Regions from separate parts of the Homo sapiens genome. Here region 1 is linked to region 2. Evidence: fine-mapped expression QTL. Tissue or cell type: whole blood. Region 2 holds a variant in brackets; the other region holds the start of a gene. All regions are shown on one strand. Distances are from middle to middle.

Region 1 (8,101 bases), 39 kb after region 2:
GAGGTTGCGGTGAGCTGAGATGGCACCTCTGCACTCCAACCTGGGTGACACGCACAAAAAAAAAAAGAAAGAAAAAAGAAATACCTGGCTGGTAGTGGTGGCTCATGCCTGTAATCCCAGCACTTTGGGAGGCCGAAGCTGAGGATCACTTGAGGTCAAGAGTTTCAGACCAGCCTGGCCAACATGGCAAAACCTTGTCTCTACTGAAAGTACCAAAATTATCCAGGTGTGGTGGTGCACGCCTGTAATCCCAGCTAGTCTGGAGGCTGAGGCAGAAGAATCGCTTGAAATGGGGAGGTGGAGGTTGCAGTGAGCCCTGATAGCGCCACTGCACTCCAGCCTGGGCAACAGAGCTGGTTAATTTATAAAGAAAATAGGCTGGCTGGGCACGGTGGCTCACGCCTGTAATCCCAGCACTTTGGGAGCCCAAGGCGGGTGGATCATGAGGTGAGGAGATCGAGGCCATCCTGACTAACACGGTGAAACCTCATCTCTACTAAAAATACAAAAAACTAGCTGGGCGTGGTAGCGGGTGCCTGTAGTCCTAGCTACTTGGGAGGCTGAGGCAGGAGAATGGCATGAACCCGGGAGGTGGAGCTTGCAGTGAGCCGAGATCATGCCACTGCACTCCAGCCTGGGCGACAGAGCAAGAATCCGTCTCAAAAAAAAAAAAATAGGTTTAGTTGGCTCATGGTTCCACAGGCTTTACAGCAAGCATGGTACTGGCATAGGCTCAGCTTCCAGGGATGCCTCGGGAAGCTTCCCATGATATCGGAAATCAAAGGAGGAGCAGGCACATCACATGGGGAAAAGAGGAGCAAGAGAGAGAGTGGGAGGAGGGAGGTGCTACACACTTTTTTTTTCAAGATGGAGTTTTGCTCTTGTTGCCGAAGCTGGAGTACAATAGCGCGATCTCTGCTCACCAGAACCGCCACCTCCTGGGTTCAAGCGATTCTTCTGCCTCAGCCTTCCTGAGTAGCTGGGATTACAGGCATGCGCCACCACGCCCGGCTAATTTTGTATTTAGTAGAGACGGGGTTTCTCCATGTTGGTCAGGCTGGTCTTGAACTCCTGACCTCAGGTGATCCGCCCACCTTGGCCTCCCAAAGTGCTGGGATTACAGGCATGAGCCACACGCCTGGCCACCACACACTTTTTTTTTTTGAGACGGAGTCTCACTTTGTCGCCAGGCTGGAGTGCAGTGGTGTGATCTCAGCTCACTGCAACCTCTGCCTCCCGGGTTCAAGTGATTCTTCTGCCTCAGCCTCCCAAGTAGCTGGGACCACAGGCGCGTGCCACCACGCCCGGCTACTTTTTTTTTTTTTTTTTTTTTTTTGTATTTTTAGTAGAGACAGAGTTTCACCGTGTTAGCCAGGATAGTCTCAATCTCCTGACCTTGTGATCCACCCACCTCGGCCTCCCAAAGTGATGGGATTACAGGTGTGAACCACCACGCCTGGCCCCGCCACATACTTTTAAATGACCAGATATTGGCTAGTCACGGTGGCTCATGCCTGTAATCTCAGCACTTTGAGAGGCCAAGATGGGGGGGATCACCTGAGGTCAGGAGTTCGAAACCAGCCTGGCCAACATGGTGAAATCTTATCTAAAAATACAAAAGTTAGCTAAGTGTGGTGGTGGGCACCTGTAATTCCAGCTATTTGGGAAGCTGAGGCAGGAGAATCGCTTGAACCCAGGAGGTGGAGGTTGCATTGAGCTGAGATCATGCCACTGCACTCCAGTCTGGGCGACAGAGCAAGATTCCGTCTCAAAAGAAAAAAAAAAGAAAAGGCCTGAACCGAAGCAATAGCAGTGGGAGTGGAATGAAGAGGAAACATTTGAGAGGAAGAATTAATGGTAATCCCTAAACACCTTTACTCAATGCTTCCTAGGAATGTGTTAGGGGATTGTGGGAATAAAGAGCTGAAGTAGCATTTGCTGCTGTCCTCAAGTACCTCAAATCCTATAGAAGCACACCTAAAAATAAAATCATAGATGCAGGGAAGGCCACATTTAGCATCACTGCAGCCAGTGTCACTGAGAGATCACTATGCTTGTGAAATCAGCAAATTAAGGCACCATACATTTCCAAGTGCCTCTGTCATTTACCCCAAGTATCTTTTGTAAGTACCTAAATTGTTATTTTGGTTAAAACACACTACAAGCCCGGGCGCGGTGGCTCACACCTGTAATCCCAGCACTTTGGAAGGCTGAGGTGGGCAGATCATGAGGTCAGGAGATCGAGACCATCCTGGCTAACACGGTGAAACCTCGTCTCTACTAAAAAAAAATACGAAAAATTAGCCAGGCGTGATGGTGGGCGCCTGTAGTCTCAGCTACTCGGGAGGCTAAGGCAGGAGAATGGCGTGAACCCGAGAGGCGGAGCTTGCAGTGAGCCAAGATCGCGCCACTGCACTCCAGCCTGGGCGACAGAGCGATCCTCCGTCTCAAACAAACAAACAAACAAAAAAACCCACTACAGTATACATCTACACCCCACCAATTTTTAGAGGCAGGGTAGTGAGGTTCAGACTGGGCCCACCTCTACCACTTGTCAACACGTGATCTTGGGTAAGCTACCAAATTCTCTTAGCCCATGCTATCACGTGAAGATGAATGAGACTGGAATGTCAGCGAGACAGAGCATGATGGGGCTATAGGAGGGGGGTATGGTCAGATCTTGCAGGGCCGTGTGAACTACCATAAAGGTTTTGGACTTTTCTTCTTTCTTTCTTCTTTTCTTTCTTCTTTCCCTTTTCTTTCTTCTTTCTTCTTCTTCTTCTCCTTCTTCTTTCTTCTTCTTCCGCCTCTCCTTCTTCTTCTTTTTCGTTTAGACATGAGGTGTCACTGTCACCCATGCTAGAGTGCAGCATGCAACCTCAAACTGCAACCTCAAACTCCTGGACTCAAGCGATGCTGCTGTCTCAGGCTTCTGAGTAGGTGGGACTACGGGTGTACACCACCACGCCCGGCTTGGATCTAGTATTCTAAGTTCAATGGGTTGTGTTTTTTGTTCCAATTTATTATAACTTTTCAATTGGAACATAATGTCTACAAATAAATGCAAAAATCTTGCCGAGTTCAATTAGTTTGGACAATTATATACGTCAATGTTATACCACCGAAAACAAAATACAGAACATTTCCATCATCTCAGAACAGTCCCAAGTGCCCCTTTCCTGCTAATTCTCCTTGTCTCCGGAACACTTAAGGGTGCTAAGCATGTTATGTTTGCGGTGGGTTTTTTTTTTAACTTAGATGTGGTAATATATGTTTGCGTTTCCAAAGGATCACTCTGGCTGCCGAGCAGAGGACAGCAATGCGGGTAAAGCACAGGCCAGGCGAGGGATAATCAGGCGGGATTGCACGGAGGTCGCCTAGCAACAGAAAGCGCTGTCGGGGGCGGGGGAACCGCTCTGCTCCTGTGAAAGGAGGAGGCCCCGCCCTCTCCTCGCCCTCTCTCTGCCCCACGCTGTGCGCGAGCACACAGGCAGCCCCGCCCCGCCTCGGCGGGGTGGGGGTGGACAGAGGTTTCTTATTGGTGAGTTTTCCGGAAGCGATGGATTCGGAATCTCGCCCGCAGTCGCGCAAGCGCGAGCGGCTGTGCGCGGTGCGTGGTGCGTGGTGCGTGATACGAGCGGCGGCACGTGGCGCGGGTGCGGGGCGTGGAGTGGCGTGGCGTGGAGTGGCGTGGCGTGGCGGGGTCTCGCGGCGCGGGCGCGCACCCGGAGCTGTGGACGGAGAGTGCCTCCCTCTGGCCTCAGTTTCCTCATGTTGTAGTAGCGGAGCATGGCCCGGACCGGGCCCCCGAGACCGCCCCGTGCAACCTCACCGCCAGCCTGGGGGCCTCAGCGACTGGGACGGGACCAAGGGGCTCGGGGATTCTCCCTGCCCCCGGCCCTGGTGCGTGACTGACCCTCCTGTTCCCAGAGCCCCCAGCGCAGGCCGGGATGTTCGTCCTGGTGGAAATGGTGGACACCGTCCGGATCCCCCCTTGGCAGTTTGAGAGGAAGCTCAACGACTCCATTGCCGAGGAGCTGAACAAGAAGTTGGCCAACAAGGTACTGGGCCCACGGCTCGCGGGCAGGCCTTGGCGTGGGAGAGCGAGCGCCGCCCACTGGCCGCAGGCCCGGCCTCGGTCATGCCAAGCCCTGGCCGTGGGCAAGCAGCTTAATGTCTCAGAACTTTTCTTCACCGTGAAAGGAGATATTGAAGGGGATCAAAAGAAAATGGGCTTGAAAAAGGGAGTTGTAACTGGAAGTGTTAGATTCCACAATTCTAAATTACTTTGCAATTGCAGGCAAGTTACTGACCCCTTCTGGGCCTCAGTTTCCATTTTTAAAATGGGGATAAAATATTGCTGTCCTTCCAGCCATGCATTGTTTTTGTTGTTGTTGTTGTTTGTTTTGTTTTGTTTTGTTTTTTGTTTTTGAGACGGAGTCTTGCTCTTTCGTCCAGGCTGGAGTGCAGTGGCGCGATCTCGGCTCACTGCAACCTCCGCCTCCCGGGTTCAAGCGATTCTCCTGCCCCAGCCTCCCGAGTAGCTGGGACAACTACAGGCGCGCGCCACCACCCCCAGCTAATTTTTGTATTTTTCGTAGAGACGGGGTTTCACCATTTTGGCCAGGATGGTCTCGATCTCTTGATCCCCCCGCCTCGGCCTCCCAAAGTGCTGGGATTACAGGTGTGCGCCATCGCCTCGGGTCAATGCATTGTTTTCGTGAAGATGGAGAGTTCTAGTAGTACAGAATTAACTGTCAGGAGGTTCATCCCTTCATTCCAGCAGCCAATATTTGTGCGCCTTCTCTGTGCTGTGCCTGTGTGCCTTAGTACCAGCTGAGAGGTCTTCCCACTGCCGTTTCTTTGACAGTCCTCCCTTTCCAGGTATTCTGTGTCACATCACTCTCTTTCCTTCTTAGACTTTTTCCTTTCCCTCTCCTTGAGAGCAGGGACCTTATCTGCCTTCTTCCCTGAAGTATCCCCTCATTTAGCCAAAGCCTGGCGGGAGTAGATGTCCCATAATTTTCTGTTTTGTGTTTGTGTGTGTGAGACAAGAGTGCCGCTCTTGTCGCCCAGGCTGGGGTGCAATGAAGCGATCTTGGCTCACTGCAACCTCCACCTCCCAGGTTCAAGCTATTCTTCTGCTTCAGCCTCCTGAGTAGCTGGGATTACAGGCACCTGCCACCACACCTGGCTAATTTTTGTACTTTTAGTAGAGACGGGGTTTCACCATGTTGGCCAGGCTGGTCTCAAACTTCTGACCTCAGGTGATCTGCCTGCCTCAGCCTCCCAAAGTGCTGGAATTACAGGTGTGAGCCACCGTGCCCGGCCATTTGTTGACTGAATGAATGAAACAGAGACAAGGCTCTGTGCTATAGTGTGGTGGGAAAGCAGATATGAATGAGAAGGGTCCACAGTTGAGTGTTTGGTGACAAATTGAGGTAAATGTTATGAGGGACAGGTGTTCACACACCTGTGGAACAAAGGAACGTCCCCTGGAATGAGGGGACCTGCAGCTTTGTTGAGGAGGTGGGGTTGAAGGTGAGATCTGATGGTGAAGTGGAGCCAACCAGAGGATTCCTTTCTAGGGTGGGAGGGGGCTGGGTGGAGAGAAGAGCCCTGAAGGCAGGAACTGGCATGTGCAAAGGCCCTGTGAAGAAGGAATACAGGCCGGGCGTGGGGGCTCACACCTGTAATCCCACCACTTTGGGAGGCTGAGGCGGGTGGATCACCCAAGGTCAGGAGTTTGAGACCAGCCTGTCCAACATGGTGAAGCCCCATGTCTACTAAAAATACAAAAAATAGCTGGGCATGGTGGCAGGCACCTGTAATCCCGGCTACTTGGGAGGCAGAGGGAGAAGAATCACTTGAACCCAGGAGGCAGAGGTTGCAGTGAGCTGAAATCGCACCACTGCCTTCCAGCCTGGGTGACAAGAGTGAAACTTCGCTTCAAAAAAAAAAGAAGAAGGGGTAAAATACCCACCATGGTGTGGAAGAGGCTGGTGTGGCTTGGGCAGAGGGGAGGGTGGGCTGGACAGGTGGGTGGGGGCCAGGCCACACAGCCCTGTAGGATGTCGGAGTTGAGGTATTGGTCTTTATCCGTGGAGCATCAGAAGGTGATGGGCTGAGAAGGAGCCAGAAAGAGGATGCTTAGCTGGCTTTACGCATGAGACAGGTCCCTTCAGAAGAGGTGAGGTTGATTTGGGGGTTGCTAGATAGTGAAGGGAACTCATGGAGTCTTTAAGTGGATGGCTTCTGGTTACTTTGTGAGGTTGAAGATGAGGGTCTGTTGGGGGATGGAGGTGTGGACCTTGAGAGAGAAGGTGTGGAAAGTCCAAGAAGGGAATATAGTCCCTTTGGGGTAGAGGTCCTGTTGGGACAAGTCTTCTAGTATTTGATTAGATGAATCGTTTGAGAGGGGGCCCACACAGAAATCCATGGTCTGACAAAGGGCACAGATCTTGTGGCATTATCTTGGTGAGGTCTGGCCACGACTCTGAGTTCTCTGAGCTTCTTGCTAATTCTTGGACAGTTCTTGCAAGGGTTCTAAGTGGGGGTGATGACACGGTGGCAGATAAGGAGACACTGAGTAGCCAGTCGTTTGAACCACAGTGGTGTGGGGTGAGGGCATGGGATTTCTGCACATTCTTGGGGCCTAGGTCTTGTGTCCCTCTGCCAGCTGCAGTCCCTGTGGCTGCGTCTGTGTGTCTGAGATGTTGTGAGCACAGTGGGGTTTAGCTGTGGCTGTGACGCTCACTAAACTGTGAGCTCTGGCATTGGCTTTGGGATGTCGGAGAGTGCACGTTTAGGCAGCATTCCTGTCACTGGTCCTCACTAGTAATAACAAAGATCCTTGATGATGATGGTTTCCAATACACGAGCCAGGTACAAGGCTAGGGGCTTCACATCTGTTATCTCTCTTTATTTTATAACTCTGCAGCCTGGTATTTCACATTTGCAGATGGGGAGACCGAGGCTCAGAGAGGTGAAGTGACCCTCTTGGCAGTCACACAGTGGGTGGTGGAGCTGGCCTTGGAACCTGGACCTGTTTTGTCACCCGAGGCCCTGCTCCTTCCAGAGCTCTGCATCCTTCTGAGGTTCCTTACCCTGGTCCCCTCCACAAACTCATTTTCACCTAAAAAAGGAGATAATCATGGCTTGCTTGTGGTTGTGAGGGGCTCAGATTGCCTGGGAGCTGGGCCTGTGGTCACTCTGTATCCATGTGTACTTGTGTGTCTGTGTTTGTATGCATGCAGGTCGTGTACAACGTGGGACTCTGCATTTGTCTGTTTGATATCACCAAACTGGAGGATGCCTATGTATTCCCTGGGGATGGCGCATCACACACCAAAGGTGGGTATCTTCTGTCCCTGGGGCATTGGGCTTCTTGGGGCTCAGTTTTCTGTAGCCAAAGGTCAAGCCAAATCCAGGTTCAGTGGTGCGTGCCTGTAAGGCTGAGGGCGGAAGGATCTCTTGAGCCACAGAGTTCAAGGCCAGCCTGGGCAACATAGCAAGACCCTGTCTTTAAATACATAAATAAAATATGAAAAAATTTTAAAAGGCTAAAGTCAAAGAGATGGCCAGAGGGTGGTGGGAGTCCTGGAGGCTGGGAGACGTGGGGCCTCATCCTGAATCGGCCAGGAATTGACCCGGTGACAGCGGCAGACTTCTCTTCTCTGGGCCTCTGTTCCCTCATCTGTGAGGCCTGGGATGTGGACTAGTTGGTTTTCAAGGCCTCTTCAGCTCTGACTTCATAGCTCTGTGTCTGTGCCCTTTTGGTCTCATTGCTACTGAGCCCTGCACCTTGTCCATTCCTCGGGCTTCCCGCTGCCTGTGGAGAGCAGACGGAAGGGGGATCAGCAGGCTGGCTGGGGGTGGGGGACTTGGATAGTAGGACACAGTAGGTAAGAGTGTGGCCTCAAGATTAAAAGCTGAGCTCTGCTTCTTACTAGCTGTGTGTCCTGGCTGAATATGTCATTGCTCTGTGCCTCTGCTTCCTTATCTGTCAGTTGCAGTTCAGGATGTCAACTGCAGTTTAGGATAGATTTTATATTCTAAGACCATTGTGAGGATTAAGGAGTTAATACATGAAAGCTCTTAG
Region 2 (8,101 bases):
CAGTGGCGTGATCTCAGCTCACTGCAAGCTCTGCCTCCCAAGTTCACGCCATTCTCCTGCCTCAGCCCTCCCGAGTAGCTGGGACTACAGGCGCGTGCCACCACGCCCGGCTAATTTTTTTGTATTTTTTAGTAGAGACAGGGTTTCACCATGTTAGCCAGGATGGTCTCAATCCCCTGACCTTGTGATCCACCCGCCTCGGCCTCCCAAAGTGCTGGGATTACAGGCGTGAGCCACCGCGCATGGCCAATTTTTTTTTTTTTTTTTTTTTAATTTTTAGTAGAAACAGAGTTTCACCATGTTGGCCAGGCTGGTCTCGAACTCCTGACATCAAGTGATCCACCCTCCTGGGCCTCCCAAAGTGCTGGGATTACTGGTGTGAACCACCGTGCCAGCCCATGCCTGGCTAATTTTTAAAAACTTTCGGCCAGGCACGGTGGCTCACGCCTATAATCCCAGCACTTTGGGAGGCCCAGGCGGATGGATCACCTGAAGTCAGGAGTTCAAGACCAGCCTGGCCAACATGGCGAAACCCTGTCTCTACTAAAAATTTAAAACTTAGCTGGGCATGGTGGCAGGCGCCTGTAATCCCAGCTACTCGGGAGGCTGAGGCAGAAGAATCGCTTGAACCCGGGAGGCAGAGGTTGCAGTGAGCTGAGATCACGCCATCGCACTCCAGCCTGGGCAGAGGTTTCAGTGAGCCAGAATCACACCACTGCACTCCAGCCTGGATGACAGAACAAAAATTCGTCTCCAAAAAAATTTTTTTTTTCATAGAGACAATGTCTTCCTTTGCTGCCTAGGCTCTAGTCTCAAACTCCTGGGTCAAGTGATCTTTCTGCCTTGGCCTCGCAAAGTGTTGGGATTGCAGACCTGAGCCACAGTGTCCAACCTGTCTAATTTTTGGTGTCTAAGCTTTGTACTGCTTCAGATCCAGGTAGAATGTGGGCTTCCTGGGTTCTCAGCACTAAGTGAGGGCTAAGTGGAGGTCCCAGACATGTTGAAAGCCAGAATGCTATGCTTCCCCTCTCCCCCCATAGAAAATTGACCCTGAGGTGGCCGCCTTCCTGCAGAAGCTACGAAGTAGAGTGCAGATCGGTGTGGTGGGCGGCTCTGACTACTGTAAGATCGCTGAGCAGCTGGGTGACGGGGATGAAGGTAGGAGTGAGGCTGGGGGTAGAGGGAGTGGGGAGTTTGAGAGATTCCTGGGCGTCTTCAAAGATCCAGTCCTGCTTCTGTGGGGCAGAAGAAATAGAGAGAGAGCAGCCAGATAGTTCCCTTACTGATTTGACAAACACTTGAGCACTTCCTATTGCCAGGGATTGTGCCAGGCCCTTGAGAAATGGCTGGGGCAAAGCAAGCAGAACCTGCCCTTATGCAGTTTACATTCTCATTTCTCCCTGCTGAGTCTTGATTTCCTCATCTTTAAAATGGGCTGAACCAGCCGGCACAGTGGCTTACGCCTGTAATCCCAGCACTTTGGGAGGCCGAGGCGGATGGATCACTTGAGATGAGGAGTTCAAGACCAGCCTGGCCAACATGGTGAAACCCCGTCTCTACTAAAAATACAAAAAATTAGCTGGGTGTGTTGGCACGTGCCTGTAATCCCAGCTACTCGGGAGGCTGAGGCAGGAGAATCGCTTGAACCTGGGAGGCGGAGGTTGCAGTGAGCCAAGATCAGGCCACTGCACTCCAGCCTGGGTGACAGAGTGAGGCTACACATCCAAAAATAAATAAATAAATAAATAAATAAATAAATAAATAAATAAAAGGGCAGAACCAATGATGGCTACCATTTGTCAAAAATGATCATGTGTTAATGTCATTGCATTTGATCCCCACAATCACACTTTAGAGTAGGCGTGATCATCCCATTTAACAGAGGATGACTCTGAAGTTATCCAGGAAATCGACTGGACCTCAGAGCCCCTGGTCTCAGCCCAGTCAAAGTGGGTGCCTCCAGTTCCTCAAGCCAGAAACTTCCTCGAATTTTTCCTTTTCCCCACCTCTTGTTTATTCCATCAGCAAACCCCAAAATATCTCCCTGTCCCCTCTGTCTCCATCTCCACCACGCCATCATAGTCCAGGTAACCACGTGCCACCCAGACCCCGCAACAGCCTCTGGGCTGTGCTCCCTGTGCCTCCCACCTCCCACCCACTCCAACTGCTTCGCCTGGCAGTCAGAGCTGAAACCTCCAACTCTCCCATGCAGCCAGCCTTGAGAACCCAGTGCGATGGCAGCTATAGAACAGAAGGGAGCCCCTCTGCAGAGGGGCAGGGGAGCACAGAGTGGAAATGATGCCCTCTGCCAGAGAGTACTGCATGGCTTCCAGAGGAGGAAGCTGAATCTTGGAGGATGAGTGGCAGGGAAGCCAGGGAAGGGCGGTTCTGACAGAAGGACCTGCATGGATGCCTGTGTGCAGAGGCCCACAGGTGTGACTGGCTTCTTTGGAAGAAAACCAAGCTGCAGAGGGAGAAAGGCTGGAGAAGCAGGTTGTAGCCTCAGATTGAACAAATGGCCTTTGAATGTGAAACCAAGGGTGTAGGCTTCCTCTCTCTTTACTTGCCCGTGGGGTCACAGACGTGGTCTCACACTCTTTCTTCCTCCTGTCCTCTATGTGACCCTGAAGTCATTGAGAAGTTTGATTATGTGTTTGCCGAGAACGGGACGGTGCAGTATAAGCACGGACGACTGCTCTCCAAGCAGGTCAGTGTCCCCCAGGGCTTAGCCAGGGGCACCCCACTTTTCCATAGTGGAGCAGTCCAAGGGGGCTTCTGTCCTGGGCTGGGGGAGAGACACTGTGCCTGTCTCAGGGTCAGGCAGCCCAGGCCACGCTCAGAGCCCTGTGTTCCTTGGCCAGACCATCCAGAACCACCTGGGGGAGGAGCTGCTGCAGGACTTGATCAACTTCTGCCTCAGCTACATGGCCCTGCTCAGGCTGCCCAAGAAGCGGTGAGGTCCCACCAGCCTGGTCTCCAGAACCTGGGGCCTGAGGGAGGAGAAGTGTGGGTCCCTCAGAGGGAACCTGGAGATACTTGGGCCCCTGATTTTTTG[C/A]GGGGAGTGTGGATTCTTGTCCCCTTTGAAGTCCTAGGAGGCTGGGGTCCCAGGTGGGGCTAGATTTGAATTCAGGGCCGTTCTGGTTCTCTCTGGCTCCCCGCCCTCCCTCACCACCAGTGGAACCTTCATCGAGTTCCGGAATGGCATGCTGAACATCTCGCCCATCGGCCGGAGCTGCACCCTGGAGGAGAGGATCGAGTTCTCCGAACTGGACAAGGTACCACTAGCTATGCAATCTTAGGCCTGTAGGGCCTCAGTCACTCAATTTATCTGAGCCTTTATTTTCTCATCAGTAAAATAGACTGGGGGATGTGTTCTGATTTAACTGATACCCTTTCAGGCACCTACTGTGTGCCATTGTTGTAGACACACCTGCATCTTTACAATGCTGCTGGTCCCCCTTCCTAGGTGACCAGCACCAGGCAGCCACCCACTGAGCCAGGCCAACACCTGGGAACATCATTTCCACCTTCCCACCCACATCGGGTCCAACAACTCTTATTTCATCAGCCTCTCGAGTCAGTGTCAAATCTGTTCATCTGCAGAACTGAGACCCCACTTTCTAGATTACCCCTTTCCCCAGCCCCAGGCTGCCCCAACTTTCCTCTCTGTCCCTCCCTACCCCTTGCATAGCCCTGCCAGCCTGCTCTCCAGCAATGCCACTGAGAACCTTTCTTTCTTTTTCTTTTTGGAGATAGAGTCTCCAAAAAAATAGATAGAGGCTGGAGTGCAGTGGCATGATCTCAGCTCACTGCAACTCCCACCTCCCGTGTTCAAGCGATTCTCCTGCCTCAGCCTCCCAAGTAGCTGGAATTACAGGCATGCACCACTACACCCAGCTAATTTTTGTACTTTTTTAGTAGAGGCAGGGTTTCACCACGTTGGCCAGGCTGGTCTCGAACTCCTGACCTAAGGTGATCCGCCTGCCTCGGCCTCCCAAAGTTCTGGGATTACAGGCATGAGCCACCACGCACAGCCCATTAGAACCTTTCAAACATGTCAGCCGCATTCACCCCCCAGCCCCACCCCCTCATTTACAATCCTTCCTTGGCTCCTCGTTGCCAACTGGATGATGTCCTAGCCCCCTGCTATGGTGCCTCAAGCCCTGAGGGCTCTGTCTGGCTCTGGCTCTCCGCGTCTCCTTTCTATGCCCTTCAAGTTCCACTTTCTATTCCTGGAACACACCAAGGTCCTCTCACCTCTGCCTGTACTGCCCCTGCTAAACCTTGATGTGCATTTTGCTTTTCTCCCCACCGCCTCCCTCCCTCTCGGGGATGGAGCAATCCACCCATCCAGACCTTTCCATGCTGGCCCGTCCACGTCATTCTGTCATTCTCTCTGACCTGTTCGGTGGCTCTCCCTGCCCTCTGCTCCAGCTATGGCCTCTTGGCTGATTCTAGAGTGCTGTGCCTCTGTCAGAGCACACTTCTCTCAGGCCCAGCTCGTCCCTCCCCTCCTTCAAATCCCCTTTCACATCCTTTTCCCAGTGGGGCCTCCGAGAGTATCACATCCACTGCTGCACTTCCTCCTCCTTCCCCTACCTTATTTCTCCCCAAGTAGCCTTGGACAACTTTCATCATCTACTTTTAAAATCCGAATTACTGTCTGTCCCTGTCCCAGAACTGTAAGCTCCATGAGGGATTTCTGCGGCTTGTTCTCCTCTGGATCCCCTATGCTTGGCACATGGCATACTTTTTGTTGTTATTGTTTTTGAGACAGGGTCTTACTCTGTTGCCCAGTCTGGAGTGCAGTGCAGTGATCCAGTCCTAGCTCACTGCAGCCTCGATCTCTCAGGCTCAAGCGATCCTCACACCTCAGCCTCCTGAGTAGCTGGGACCACAGGTGCATTACACCATGCCAGGCTAATTTTTAAAATATTTTGTAGGGATGGGATCTCGCTGTGTCTCCCAGGCCAGTTTTGAACTCCTAGCCTCAAGTGGGCCTTCTCCCTCAGCCTTCCAAAGCACCAAGACTGTAGGTGTGAGCCACCGCACCTCGCAAAGAAATACCCTTTTTTGTTTTTTTTTTTTTGGAGACTGAGTTTCGCTCTGTCACCCAGGCTGGAGTGCTGTGGCACAATCTCGGCTCACTGCAACCTCCACCTCCCGGGTTCAAACAATTCTTCTGCCCCAGCCTCCCAAGTATCTGGGACTACAGGCACATGCTGCCACGCCCGGCTAATTTTTTTTTTTTAGACAGAGTCTTGCTCTGTCACCAGGCTGGAGTGCAGTGGCACAATCTCGGCTCACTGGAACCCCTGACTCGCTGGTTCAAGCGATTCTTCTGCCTCAGCCTTCCCAAGTAGCTAGGATTACATGCACCACAATGCCCAGCTAATTTTTTGTATTTTTAGTAGAGACGGGGTTTCACCATGTTGGCCAGGATGGTCTCGATCTTCTGACCTCGTGATCCGCCTGCCTCAGCCTGCCAAAGTGCTGGGATTACAGGCGTGGCCACTGTGCCCGGCCTAATATTTTGTATTTTAGTAGAGATGGGGTTTCACCGTGTTGCCCAGGCTGGTCTCGAACTCCTGAGCTCAGGCAATCCACCCACCTCAACCTTCCAAAGTGATTATAGGTGTGAGCCACTGTGCCCGGCAAGAAATACCTTTTGAATGAATGAAATGAGCTGTATTATCTCCATTTTATAAATGAGGAAACCAAGGCTCGATGAGAAGGGCCCTGCCCGAGGTCACATAGGGAGTTGGTTGCAGAGCAAAGATTTGATTTTGCCATTGGCCCTCTGGTGCCTCCCTGAGGGTGCCTCTCAGCTCAGTGACTCCTGACTCCCACCTGTGCCCTGAGGCTTAGGGGAGGCAGTGCCCACAGGCACAGGGACTTTTTTTTTTTTTCTTGATAGAGTCTTGCTCTGTCACCCAGGCTGGAGTGCAGTAGCATGATCTCAGCTCACTGCAACCTTCGCTGCCTAGGCTCAAGCAATTCTCCTGCCTCAGCCTCCTGAGTAGCTGGGATTACAGGCCCATGCCACCACACCTGGCTAAGTTTTTTGGTTTTGGTTTTGGTTTTGGTTTGGTTTTGGGTTTTTTTTTTTTTTTTTTTTTTGAGATGGAGTCTCACTCTGTCGCCAGGCTGGAGTGCAGTGGTGAGATCTCGGCTCGCTGCAACCTCTGCCTCCCGGGTTCAAGCGATTCTCCTGCCTCAGCCTCCCAAGTAGCTGGGACTACAAGCGCCTGCCACCACGCCCAGCTAATTTTTGTATTTTTAGTAGAGACAGGGTTTCACCATGCTGGCTAGGATGGTCTCGATCTCTTAACCTTGTGATCCGCCCTCCTTGGCCTTCCAAAGTGCTGGAATTACGGGCATGAGCCACCGCGCCCGGCCTAATTTTTGTATTTTTTAGTAGGGACAGGGTTTTGCCATGTTCAGGCTGGTCTCAAATCCCTGGCCTCAAGTGATCTGCCTACCTTGGCCTCCCAAAGTGCTGGGATTATAGATGTGAGCCGCTGCGCCCGGCCACGGGGACTTTTTTTTTGGGGTAGTTAGGATTGGTCTTAGGCAAAGAACCCTTCCCCCCCAATACACGTGCTGAGAAGTTATCCCTTCCTGTCCACCCAGGTTCCCAGTCCCAGCTCTACCCATTTGCCTTGTAACCTGGAAAAGCATCTTTACTAACGTGTGCCTCAGTTTCCTTATGTGTAAGGTGGGGGTAATAGCAGTTCCCATCCCATGGGCTGTCATGAGCACTGGATGAGGTGGCACATGGACCCCACCTGGCATGGAGTTGGGGAGCCACACCCTAACTCCCCACCCCAGAGCCTTCTCAAGTATTTTTGGCTCTTGTTTGCTCCCTTCTGGCACTGGAGGAGCATGAACCTTCCTGATCTGTGCGCCCTGCCCTGGCCCAGAGCTGGTGTAAATAAATGCTTAACCCAGCTCATCTTCCAGAACCCTGAAGCGGGGATGAGTACTTCCCTTCCTTAGATGAGGACACTGAGGCCAGAGGGTGAGTAACCAGCTCGAGGTCACAGTGCCGGTCCCTGCTGAGGCTGGCCTTGCACATGGGGCTGTCTAGTGACCAGCCTTGTTCTCCAGAGAAGGGAGGTGCAGCCAGCCTCGGCCATGTGGAAACATTTCTTCAGAGCCTGGGGCAGTCTTAGTGGTAGCCCTGGGCCTACAGAGTGGACGCTGGTGGGGACTCTGGCCTCCCTGGGGCCCACCTACCTGCTGGAAAGCCAGGCCAAGGCTGGCAGGGGGCTCACATCCCTTATCTCTGCTTTTCCATGAGAGGGAAGCAGGCAGGGGTCATTCATTACTTCTCTGTCCTTTAGTCCAGGAAATAGGCTCAGAGAGGTCAGGTGACTTGCCCATGGTCACACAGCTGAGGAGTACAGTAGCCAAGCCTGGCTACTTGCCTTCAGATCTCAGGCTAGGGGGTGTCTGGCTTTATATCTGACATCCTCCCTGGGCCACTTCTCCAAGCTCCATGCTGCTGACCACTGCCTGCCTTTCCGCCCCAGTCCTACCCGGCTCTGACTACAGGGCCATACCAGCCACCCCACTCCTGTGCTCCAGAATCCTCAGCGCCTCTTGGTCCCCCAGGATGTGGTCAGACTTCCCAGCCCGGTCTCGAGACCCTCTGTCAGCTGAATGTCCTGCTGGCTGGTTTAGATGTTCAGCTGCCCCTCAGACTGGGCATAGCTGCTCCCCTTTGTGGCCCTCTGAGATGGAGATCCTGGGGGCTGGCGGGGAGAATGTCCCCCTGCTCCACGTTTGCGGAGCTGCTGCCAGAGTTCCTGCTCAGAGGGACGGGGCCGGCCTGGGCACTACCTAGTCCCCAGCCCAGCCGCGTCTTTGCATGCTGGGTGCTCTGCCATGCCTGGCATCCTGCTGCCCTCTGTGAATGCCCACAGCCACCTCCTCACAGGTCTCCTGCTCTCAGCTCCCATGCTCATTTCTGAGTATTTGCTTTGTTGAGCTGGTTACAGATAACAGGATCGAGCCCTGCCCTGAGGTGGACACTGATGTGGGATCCAGATTGCCCCGTCTCCTCGCCCTTCCTACTCGTGTCTCTCCTCTGAGGTCT

The links. PIP is the estimated chance that this variant, and not a neighbour inherited with it, causes the effect.
Region 1: it holds the start of POLR3H, and the variant in region 2 is fine-mapped to the expression of POLR3H in whole blood (TOPMed, PIP 0.97).

What each region holds. Positions count from the first base shown.
Region 1 is chr22:41,539,951-41,548,051 of GRCh38, reverse strand. POLR3H (RNA polymerase III subunit H) reads left to right here and starts at 3,582. Exons shown (of 6, transcript NM_001018050.4): 1 at 3,582-4,061; 2 at 7,257-7,353. The coding sequence starts at 3,951. RefSeq lists silencers at 3,392-3,491, 3,682-3,811 and enhancers at 3,862-3,951, 3,962-4,061, 3,384-4,221.
Region 2 is chr22:41,579,133-41,587,233 of GRCh38, reverse strand. It overlaps PMM1 (phosphomannomutase 1), which reads left to right. Exons shown (of 8, transcript NM_002676.3): 2 at 1,041-1,158; 3 at 2,631-2,707; 4 at 2,862-2,953; 5 at 3,176-3,275. Among named protein-coding and RNA genes, the nearest start is that of PMM1, 6.7 kb to the left of the region's middle. The variant C/A (reference allele first, on the strand shown) is at 3,056.